2 separate regions of the Homo sapiens genome follow, and region 1 is linked to region 2. The links come from fine-mapping of genetic effects on gene expression. A gene starts in region 2. The other region holds a variant in brackets. All regions are shown on one strand. Distances are between the middles of the regions.

The links. PIP is the estimated chance that this variant, and not a neighbour inherited with it, causes the effect.
Region 1: its variant is the best candidate, but not a certain one, in a credible set for the expression of RAB3C in cerebral cortex (GTEx, PIP 0.51).

The regions. Positions count from the first base shown.
Region 1 is chr5:58,613,549-58,618,936 of GRCh38, reverse strand. It overlaps RAB3C (RAB3C, member RAS oncogene family), which reads right to left. Exons shown (of 5, transcript NM_138453.4): 2 at 1,067-1,294. Among named protein-coding and RNA genes, the nearest start is that of RAB3C, 33 kb to the right of the region's middle. The variant A/G (reference allele first, on the strand shown) is at 3,060.
Region 2 is chr5:58,580,423-58,585,810 of GRCh38, reverse strand. It overlaps RAB3C (RAB3C, member RAS oncogene family), which reads right to left and starts at 2,736. Exons shown (of 5, transcript NM_138453.4): 1 at 2,579-2,736. The coding sequence starts at 2,602. RefSeq lists a silencer at 2,730-2,929.

The DNA of each region.
Region 1 (5,388 bases), 33 kb before region 2:
TATGAAGGGAGGGTTATTGTCAGTCCTATTGATCAATCCTGGCACCAGCACCAAATGGTAGTAGCTGTTGTAAATGTCTCAGAAGGAGCTAGAAAACACCTCTTGGGAAATGCCTGATTACAGATCAAATCAATTTGAGTGGCAGAGGTACAAAGGAATAGGAAAAAGGTGCCAAAACTTACTGTAGAAACATTCTTCCTATGTACATATTACGATGTCCATAAAATATTTACTACATCAGTCTTTTTTGGTGTAACAATTTTTTTAAATTGGCTGCTCCATCTTTTATATTGCCTTGGACCTGCTATCCACATAGATTTTCCTCTGTTTTTTGCTCACTGGTCTCCTAAATTTATCCCACCAGTTTGGCTAAGCTACCTCTGATCTTCTTCTGGAGGTAAGGAGAGGCAAAAAGCTAACCAAATGGTCTCAAAACTTTGGGAGAACCTTCTACTTTGGAAAGACCCTGTTTCAAATAAATATTTCATTTCATTTGTTTTATTTGCATATATAAACATAGCTCTTAGAGTTGAAAACAGTTTGCACAGTATAAATAGACCATCTCTGAAGTTCTATCTGGAGCTTTATGAAGGGTCTAAACCTACACTTTTCCTATATTTGGTTGTTTATCTTCTTCTTTGAAATGCCCAGGAGAGGCTGCTTTCTGTGACCTAAAAACCCAGAACCACTTAGCTTATTTTATAGATTACAAAAATGTCAGAGAAGGAGTCACAGACTTTCTCAAGGTTACAGAGATCATAAAAGGCAAAGCCAGACTTAAAGTGTTCCTTCCACCACCAACAAGATAGAGGTTTGGATTTTTTTTTTATTCTGAAGACTCTTAAGGAGCACCACATGACAACAAGGCATAATAATAATTCACCCCTCATGTCTTAAAGAGGCATCACCACTACTTTCTTTGAAACAGAATGTTCTGCAGCAAAGAAGCTGGAAATTGAGGCTTGTGGATGCCCTGGGGATAGAACAAGGCAGAAAGTTTCTCCCTTACAAATGGATATGTTCAACACCCCAGCCTGAAGAACACTGCCAGTTCAAAGCCACTTACCCAAATCTGAAGCTTGATTCTCTTTTCATTTTTGAATACAGTTTTTACTTTGAAATCGATCCCAACTGTGCTGACGAATGCAGATGTAAAGGAGTCATCTGCATAACGGAATAGAAAAGATGTTTTCCCCACACTGCTATTGCCGATGATGAGTAATTTGAACATGTAGTCAAAGTTCTGATCAGAGGAGTCTTTCTGGCCGTACCTGGCATCTTGGGCAGAGGCCATCTGTGATAAAAACAAAACAAAACAAAAACAAAATAGGTGTAGATCAGACTCTCATTTGATATGAAGCTAGCAGCATACTCATTATTGGCCTTGCCAGAAACAGATGTCAGACACTCAGGAGGCGAGTGGTGAGTGCTCCCCAGTCTTCCTCTGATATTGGTATCCATGGCAATAATTCCCTGCTGGAAGACAGAATAGCAAATCTTACAGGCCTTTCCAGCTGTGTTGGTGCATGTCACTGCTCAGCATTCAGAACCAATCAAAGACACCAAAGGGGATGTCTATAAGGGTAACATGACAAGCAAAGAGATGAGAAATTGGCCAGGGCATGTGGGCTCTGAAACTTTATAATCCTACTGACAGAGACACCAAAGTGGCTGAACAGCAGGGTATTTCTTCCTGAATTATCTGAATGATTCGAATCTCTCTTATTTCATAGGGAAGCACACCCAAAGCATATCTCTACTTCATTTATTATCATATCAAATCAACATCCTAACATAAAGGGCAGTGTCTTTTAAATTAAAAATAATTATGATGGCAAATATATATAGTTCAAACAATGTGCCGGATACTAACTTATTTAATCCCTCACAGTAACCCAATGAGATGGGTACTTTTAATATTTCCATATTAAAATGAGAAAATTGAGGCCCAGAGATATTATTAAGTAACTTGCTCAACTTCATATAGGTGTTAATAGTAGAGGCAGGATTCAAACAAGCAGTGTGGTGCCAGGGCTCATGTTCTTGACACCTGCCCTACTTCCAAATGACGACTAGGGAGGCATGCGCAAGTGCCCTAGAAGATCATGTCGGAAATATTCATTGTGAAATGCATCAAAGGAGAGCCTGACCTGGGTTCAAAACTTGGCTCCACTCTTTACTGGCTGTGTGACCTTGGTTTGTTATTTTAAATTGGTGTGCTGCAGTTTCCTGCCTTAGATGAAATGGGAAAATATAATATCTAACTTGGAATTCTTGTGAAAATAATAGATGATACAGCTGTAAAGCGATATGTAAAGCATCTAGCATAAAATAGAAAATGGTCTCTACAATCAATTACAAATGCTTTAGGTGGATATTGGCTTTTATTCATCTTTTTTGATGATCATCTTAACATCTATCAAAAATGATATTGCATTACTTCTAAGTACCATTTGGCTCAATATAGAAAAGAGGTATTTAGAATGTTGCATCCCACTGATTAGTACATTTGCTCAGCACAGTTTCTGATGCTATAAATTATTTGGCAATTGTTATTCTGTTTAATATGGTAGCCACTAGTCACATATGGTGATTTAAATTTACATTAACATGAAACAAAATTAGAAATTCAGTTCCTCAATCCTACTAGCCACATTTCAAGTGCAAAATAGCAGCATATGACTAATGGCTACTATACTGGACAGTGCAAATACAGAACATTGGCATAATTGCAGAAAACTCTATTGTACAATGCTAGGCTAGAGAGTCTATTTTCCATTTCCCATAAAAGCTGATTAATAGTTACTTGTTTCTCTTTGGGGTAGGGGGAGGAAAAGGGAGAGGCTCCAAGAGATGGAAAAATGTTAGAAACAGGAAACAGTGCTCAGCCTCATCTAGGACAACACTGGTTACCTGAAGTCAGGGGTGTGTGTGTGTGTGTGTGTGTGTGTCTGTGTGTGTGTACACGTATGTTTACAGAAAACTGAGGAAAAAGGAAAAAGGGAAATGGTGAGATTGTGTATTTCTCTTCTACAAATACTTAATGCCAGCAAGATAAC[A/G]CAATTTTATGTATAAGAATAAGGACAAACAAAAAACCCGTGGGTATTTCATGAAAGTTAAGGATAATAAAGACTCAAATTGCATTTTACATTTTCTTATTAAACATAAGCTTAAGCATTTCTCTTTTTAAGTCTATACAGCCACACAAATATATTTAGAAATTGTGAAAACCTATAACAAACGCTTCCCAGTGGGCAGAGGTCGGCCTCTAAAACAGGCAGATAGCATCACTTTCTTTTTTGGCCCACCAGCCCACATACTAAGGTCAACTTTCCCCAACACATGCCGGCCAAAGGGCAAAAGTAGGATTGCAACTCTTGACCACTAGTTTGAACAATGATCTTTTGCCATGATGATTTCTGGTCCCCCAGAAAGCCAGTTAACTGTTTTATTTGGCAGTGCTATTCCTGCAGACATTGTCCTTTCATCATTTAATGCTCCTCTCCTATATGAGCTGCTAAATTCAAACAGGCCTAAAAATGGCCTTCATTAAGAAGATTATTTTACCTTTTTTCATATGAACCAGACTGGATTTGGGGGTCTGGTAAGAATGTTCAGCTAAGCCACAGCCAGAAAAGAGACACTATATATTTCCTAGAGCTGCTCACTTACTTGGCCTGATAGCTTACTATCTGTTACAGCCCCATAACCCTACGGTGGCATTCAAACTGAGGCCCGAGGATCTCTAGGATACCTCAAAAGTTGTAATGAAGACTGCTGCTATCAACTTCAGGTCCCATTCCAAAATTAAGTTGGTTTCAAAACCTGAAGAAACATAATTGTCCCTCGGTATCTATAGGGGTTGATTCCAGTACCTCCCATGGACACCACAATCTGCAGATGGCTCAAGTACTTGATATAAAATGGTGTGGTATTCACATATGACTTATGCATATTCTCCTGTACAGTTTAAATTATGTACAGATTATTTATAATACCTAACACAATGTAAATGCTATGTAAACAGTGGTTATTATTCTGTATTATTTAGGAAATGATAACAAGAAAAAAAGTCTATACATGTTCAGTACACATGAAATTTTTTCCCAAATATTTTATATCTGCAATTAGTTCACTCCACACACGGGAGCTCATGTATATGAAGGGTGAACTATATAGATATCACTAATATATAGTCTTTTGGAATATGACTGTATGCATTTAGGTGAAGACAAGCACAACTGGGACAGCAACATCTTTAATTTCAAGGGCTAATATACCTTGTTGTGGTAGCAGCAAAGAAGGTAATGGGGGCAAAAGAGGGGGTCTAGGAGGGACACAGAGCTGGTGGACATGTGCACCCAGCAAAATTCTTCTCAGGAAGAGCCTCTAAAGAATTAATTAGGAAAAGTTATTAACTCACTTACTCTTGAAGACTGTTCATGGGTTTTTTTTTGTACTATTTCCTAATTTAACACACCTAATAAGATTCCACAAAGAGCCAAAAAGATATGCATTTGGAATGTATGTGTGTTTTTGTATAACTTCAGAATAATGAAATAAATCCTAGCTCAGAGGATGAAGAAAGAAACAGCCCTAATCTTGCTGAGACCACAAGTGAAGCAATTTGACAGCATACGAATGTCAAAGAGGTTTACAGACAGGCACTATGTAAGTTTACTGATATCTCTAAATACTAAAGTCATGTGAACATTCTCAAAATTTTCATGGGGAAACATAGCTGAAATTTGAAAATAGGAACAGTCAAGGGGAACATCAAATTTCATAAAAGATATACAAAAATAACTCTTCAAATGGCATTAATCTTGAACTTCAAATAACAAATAACCATAGAGTTGGAAAGAATCTTCAAAGGCCGTGCAACTTCCCACCCATCCCATGTCCCTTTCATGGCATCCATCATCTGAGGTTGTTGTCCTAGCTTCATCCTTCACACTGAGCAGCAAGATGTTTACTATGCTGTGAAGAAGCCTTTACAGCATAGAGAGAACTTCAGGTATCTGAAGGAACCCCTCGGGCTCCATAAGCTTTCTCTCCTCCTGCTTGGATGATCCCAACTGATTTAGCCTCTCTTCCACATAGGACGTGTCTGAAAAATTGAACACATCCTGCTAGGTTAAAACTGACACCTCTTCAGATTTTCAAAGTCCCATGTGTGGCTTTCATAATTGGTCACAATATTCTAGATATTTACCTACTTAGTCCAAAGTAGAATGAAACCATTATATCTTATCACACTTGACTTAAAATGCTCATCACTATTTTCACATTAACTGTTATGAACATAGGTTTCTTCTATTCCCATTCTATATTTGACAACTTATTTTTTTATGAAAGTGTCAACCTTTATGTGTATTCTGTTAAATT
Region 2 (5,388 bases):
ATTTTGGTAGTTACTATAAAAAACAATTATCCCTCATTTTCCCTCAATTCAGAAAGAAATACTCTTCATAAAATAGGCACATATCAAAGATAACTACCTCGAACAGAACATCAACTTATTTATATAGATACATCAAATGCTTTTTAAAAGACCTTACATGATTTTTAAAAGGATTCTTTGATTTAAGAAAATACAAGAAGTAAATTGGGAAATAAGCAAATACATTAAAAAGCTCATTTTCTTTCACATCAACAAATGAACTAAATATTTTTTAAAAGCAGAGAAGAAATCTCTTATTTTATGGAACCATAAAATGAGGTTTTGCTTGTGAGTCATCTTCTACAGACCTAAGTAAAAAAATATTTGGGGCATATATTTAAAATGATGATGTGGTTCAGTCTTTAAATGAAAAAAAAAGTCAATTATTTATCTTGTTGCATTGTCATATATCAAAGTCACGTGAAATGTGATTACAATTCAGAAATATCGGTGCTGAAACATTACTTGTTACTTTAAAATATTCAGAGTAAGCTTATAGTTTTTATCCTATCTATTATTACATATTTTTGAAAATTGATAATAATGGAGATGGGGTCACCATAACAACAATTTATTAGTTAAATTGAATTAATGTATGTGCTTTAATTAAATATGCTAAAAAAGTCTTTGATTTCCTAAAATGTACATTACTCATGACAGCATTTGGAAATTTTAAATTTCAAAAACTTAGTCCAACGACTAAAAATACATTATAAATATGACAATAACTCCATCCACAAGCAAATTAATTTCATTTTACCTTATTTTTATTTTAGTTCTTCATTAAAGTTTTGACTAAAATAGAAAATCACAGTGCCTACTACATAGTTGGTGAACACAAAAAATAATTTTAACTGTTTCCTGAAACATTAATACAGTTCTGTAATATTTTAATGACCTTTCTGAACATTCTAAGCAACTCTGTAAGAAAGCAAAATTGATATACAGTGTGGTTAAATTTTTCGTAATTTATTTTGATTGAAAAAATATCAGTGCATACATAGTTTACTTTAAATATTAACAATCTACTTTATTTTTCAAAAATTCTTGGAAATCTTTTTTATTGTGTAAATTTAAGATGTACATGTTTTAATATACATATACATAGTGAAGTATAATGATCTACTTTTAAAGTCTACAATTAGTGTTTACTTATAATTAAATATGATTAATTTAGCCAGTTGGCTCCTGGTAGTATCTCCAGTAATAGAAAATTATCATAAACCAATATATCTTGATTGCAACAGCCTGTACCTTTATTGTCTGTTCAGATTCTTTTCACATCAGGTCTATAATGAAAAGCTAAGTCACAAATAGAGGTATTAGAAGACACACAAAGGGGCCACTGTTCCCTGGAACAAATCAAATTTTCAATAACTCATAGGTAATTTGAGGACTTCCCTTATATAATCACCCAACAAACAATTAAATTCTATAGATTTTTCATCTAACAGTCCAGTAAGGGGTTCTTAATATACATAACCCATAAAATAAATTAAAAGTAAATCAAAGCATATGTTTAAAGTCCTTGATTCATGAAGAAACCAGTTGGAAAACGCTGAAGTCCGAATTAATGTCAAATATTTATACTCTTGGGTTTGGCAGCAGAGGTGGGTTCTCAGGAGAGACAGCACATTCCAAATGATGTTTTCTATTCTTCTCTCAACCCCACTCATAAAATGCCTTTCTGTTACACAGTAGGATCACTGCTTGATTAATAAACACAAGCTGATGTTTAACGTTAACTGGTAGTACATAGAGACGAGAATTATCACTCATCTTTACTTAAAAACAAAACTTAAGCAAGATGCTTAGGCAGTGGTACTTCTGCACCAGAGTCCTTTGCATTTCTCAAAGGAAACAAACCTAAGAATGTGATTGAAATGGGGAATCGGAGAACAAATGGGCACATAACACAGGAAAGCTCAGAGGGGGCTGTCTCCAAAACAGAGTAAACCAGTTGTGTGGACAGTGATGCTGGCATAGCTCAGGGATATGCCAAGCCCCGATGTGTTTGCTATTTTTTGCTGATACTGGGAGCCTAACTGAAGAAAGGGGACTTTGAGGAGCCTAACATTGGCTTCTCTTTATTTAATGCGCCTTTAACCAAGCGGAATTCGCTCTATGCCGACTCCAGTGGGGAGCCTTCAACCCCGAATCTGATCTATCTGCCTTAAATCCGTGAGTTTTCACCGCGATCTCAAACCCCGGATGCCAAGAGAGGAGATCAATGCCAACACGAGATTGCATGCTCCTCTGACTTTTGTTTGCTTGGGTTTTCATTTTAGACAGACACTCTTATCCTCTTTACAGAGCCTAGAAAGATTGCGAATAGCCCGATCCCTCATCAAGACAGCCCCAATCACAGCCACACAGAGCGTAAAGAAACCCAACTCTGTTCCCAGGGTCATGTCACAGAGCCGCATCTCCGCGGGTGACCGCCTAGACCTTTCCTTACGTTGAACTGCTTGTGCGCGGAGCAAGGGGAAAAGCATCTCTTTCAATTCCTCCCGAGGCCACTCTTTCTTTATGGACCCACCTGCATGGGCGCTTCGTGTCTCATTGTTGGCAAATGTCCTTTCTCTCTGGCTAGGACCGCACTGGTCTGGGCTTCCGGTCAAGCGTGCACAGTCCCGGCGCTCCACGCTCCACACTCTGCACTCTTGGGGTTCGCTAACCGGCTCCAACATCAGCACTGGAGCTGTCCTCTCCTGGCGCCGCACACGCGTACTGCCGAGGAGCCCCGTGCACTCCTGGGAGCTGTAGTCTCGCCCTCCGGGTGTTCCCGGCAAACGGGCGAGCGGTGAACTACAACTCCCGGCAAGCAAGCAAACCATTAAACAGGCTCGATCCGCCAGTCGGGCTCGGCCGCGGAGCCTCCCTACTCCTTTCCAAACGCTCCTGGGTTACCTCTCCCAGTCTCCCCTGCTCTTTTCCTCGCCAGGGGCAGGCGAATGTGACCCCAGCTTATCTCAGCTGGAGATTTTTCTTTGCTAACTATCGCCTTCGGAAGTAGATGGTGATTTTCTGATTAGGAAACAACACTACCTTGTGCTAATTTCCAATGCAAACGAAGCCAGAGCTGGTCTCTGGGACTCTCCGCCCTACCCCTCCCCATCCGAATCGGGAAAGTTTCTACGTTTCCTTAGGCAGAGTGGGGCAGTTTTACAATCTCATTCACCAAACGTAGGGGAGAAAGACGATTAACGGTACACACATAAGGAAAGTGGTTTATCCGCATAATTGCACTGAGAAGTCGCGCGCGCGTACATAGTCACACACACAACCCGCACACCGAAGTGCGTGAAAGCGAGATTTCTGGCTAAGCACCCCAAGGAACTCCTTTCGCCTGCTTACCTTTCCATACAGCTCCATTACAACTCGAGGTTCAGAAATTCTCAAGTGCCCTCGCTACAAAGGAGGTTAGGGCTCTACGTAGGAAGCGGGGCTAAAATGAAAAGGCACAACACAATAGAAGGGGTAGGGGTGGCGTCTGGCGGAGAGAAAAAGGAGGGATGTGGAGAAGACAGCTGATTTAGATGGAGGGCTTCTTTCCTCTGGAGGGAAAGCGTGGAATCCAAGCTGCAGCTGCAGAGAAAGGGCTCAGTCTCTTAGGAAGTGCCAGGGGCGCGATAGCGCTGGCCAGCCCCTCCCCAGGCCCTCCCCCAGGCACCTTCCGCCGTCATTAGCGCGCACACACTGCCGCTGGCCGCGGGCTGCAGAGCTGATAGGGCACTGGGTTATTTACCCAGAGCAAGCCACATAAAATGAACACATTCATCACCGGAACCCAAAAGCACCGTGACAGAATGAGATGGGAGACCTCTATTAAGTTATCCTGTCCTTTCTTTAACACAAAGTCATTCCTTATATTACAACTATACTCCTCCCAGATTAGTTCAAAAAAATGGTTTTGAAATCTAGGAACTGTACTTTTGTTAGACTTATCCTTTTCCTGTCAGTTGACTGATAGGTATGACTATCCATGTCCTCTGTAACTATCTAGAGACAGCCCTCTCTACTTAAAAGTAAACGTTGATCATCCAGCAAATCAGCCCTGCCTTGTCATGAAGTCAAAATTATAACGGAGGCAGAGTGAAAAAGGAATGATTGTGATATTGGCATGGAGGTATGGAAGGAATAACTTGAATCAGCTTTAAACTTCATTGCAGCAGTAGAACAGAGGTTCTGAAACTTAAACGTACTTGAAAATCTGTTGAGACGGAGGTTAAAGTTAAAATTTTTAAGCCACAGGTAGAGATTGATTCACTAGATCTTTTGAGAGGTCTGGAAATTAGCATTTTAAATAAACACTCCAGCAATTCTGATGCAAGTGGTTCCCTTGCCATAATTTGAGAAACATTGTCTTAAAAGAATCTATGTGTAACACTTTTTCAAAGGTGCAAACCTCAAAAATGTCACGGTATGGACTCAATAATGCAACAGTCTAATATTGGGAACCTACCATATTCAATATTTCCATTAATTTTAGTTGATTGTATTATTTAACAACTCTATAATCTGTCTTCTAATCTTGCAATTAGTGAGAATGTAATGCGATATCACCTAGGTAAGTAGTTTTTATAACTATTCAGAAAATACATTTAAGCCAGGTGTGGTGGAGCGTGCCTGCAGTTATAGTTACCCTAAAGGCTGAGTTGGGAGGATCATTTGAACCTAGAAATTCGAGGCCAGCCTAGGCAACATAGTGAGACACCCCCATCTGAAAAAAAAAAAAAATAGAAAAGGCATATATTTAAAAACATAAACCTCATAGTTGAGAGTAGTGTGATGCTTAGAGAAGTTTCGTGTAAATTAGCTAATAACAAAATGGAAAGTTAAAAGAAAATCCAATACCAATACGTATCACAGTAGCAACTTATTAGAAGTATGACTTCTGCAATTTTTAAAATTAAGATGTATCTAAAGATGCATCTCTTTAAAAATTGTTTTCAAGAGAAATGCCAACAAAATAATCCTGACATTTAAATGTATAGAATTGTTTGGCATTTAATAATATTTGCTTAGCTACTTAGAGCCTGCCTTTCTTCAGAACAACTTCTTATGTATATTGTACTATCATCACTTTCTGAAATTCTCAGAATTCAGTCTGATATAGAACATATTTAAACCTTATAAATATTTATCTTGCAAAATTACTGTTCTTTGAGAAGTTTATCCCTTCTCAACATTTCACTAAAATTATATATATCTTCGGATTTTTTAGTATGTCTTTTATTTGTGGAAGAACCCATGAAAGTTTAGTTTAAAGCTGGAGTTTTTAAAAAACATTGGGGGGAACTTAATTTTGTCCTAAAGCTGGAGTTTTTAAAAAACATTGGGGGGAAC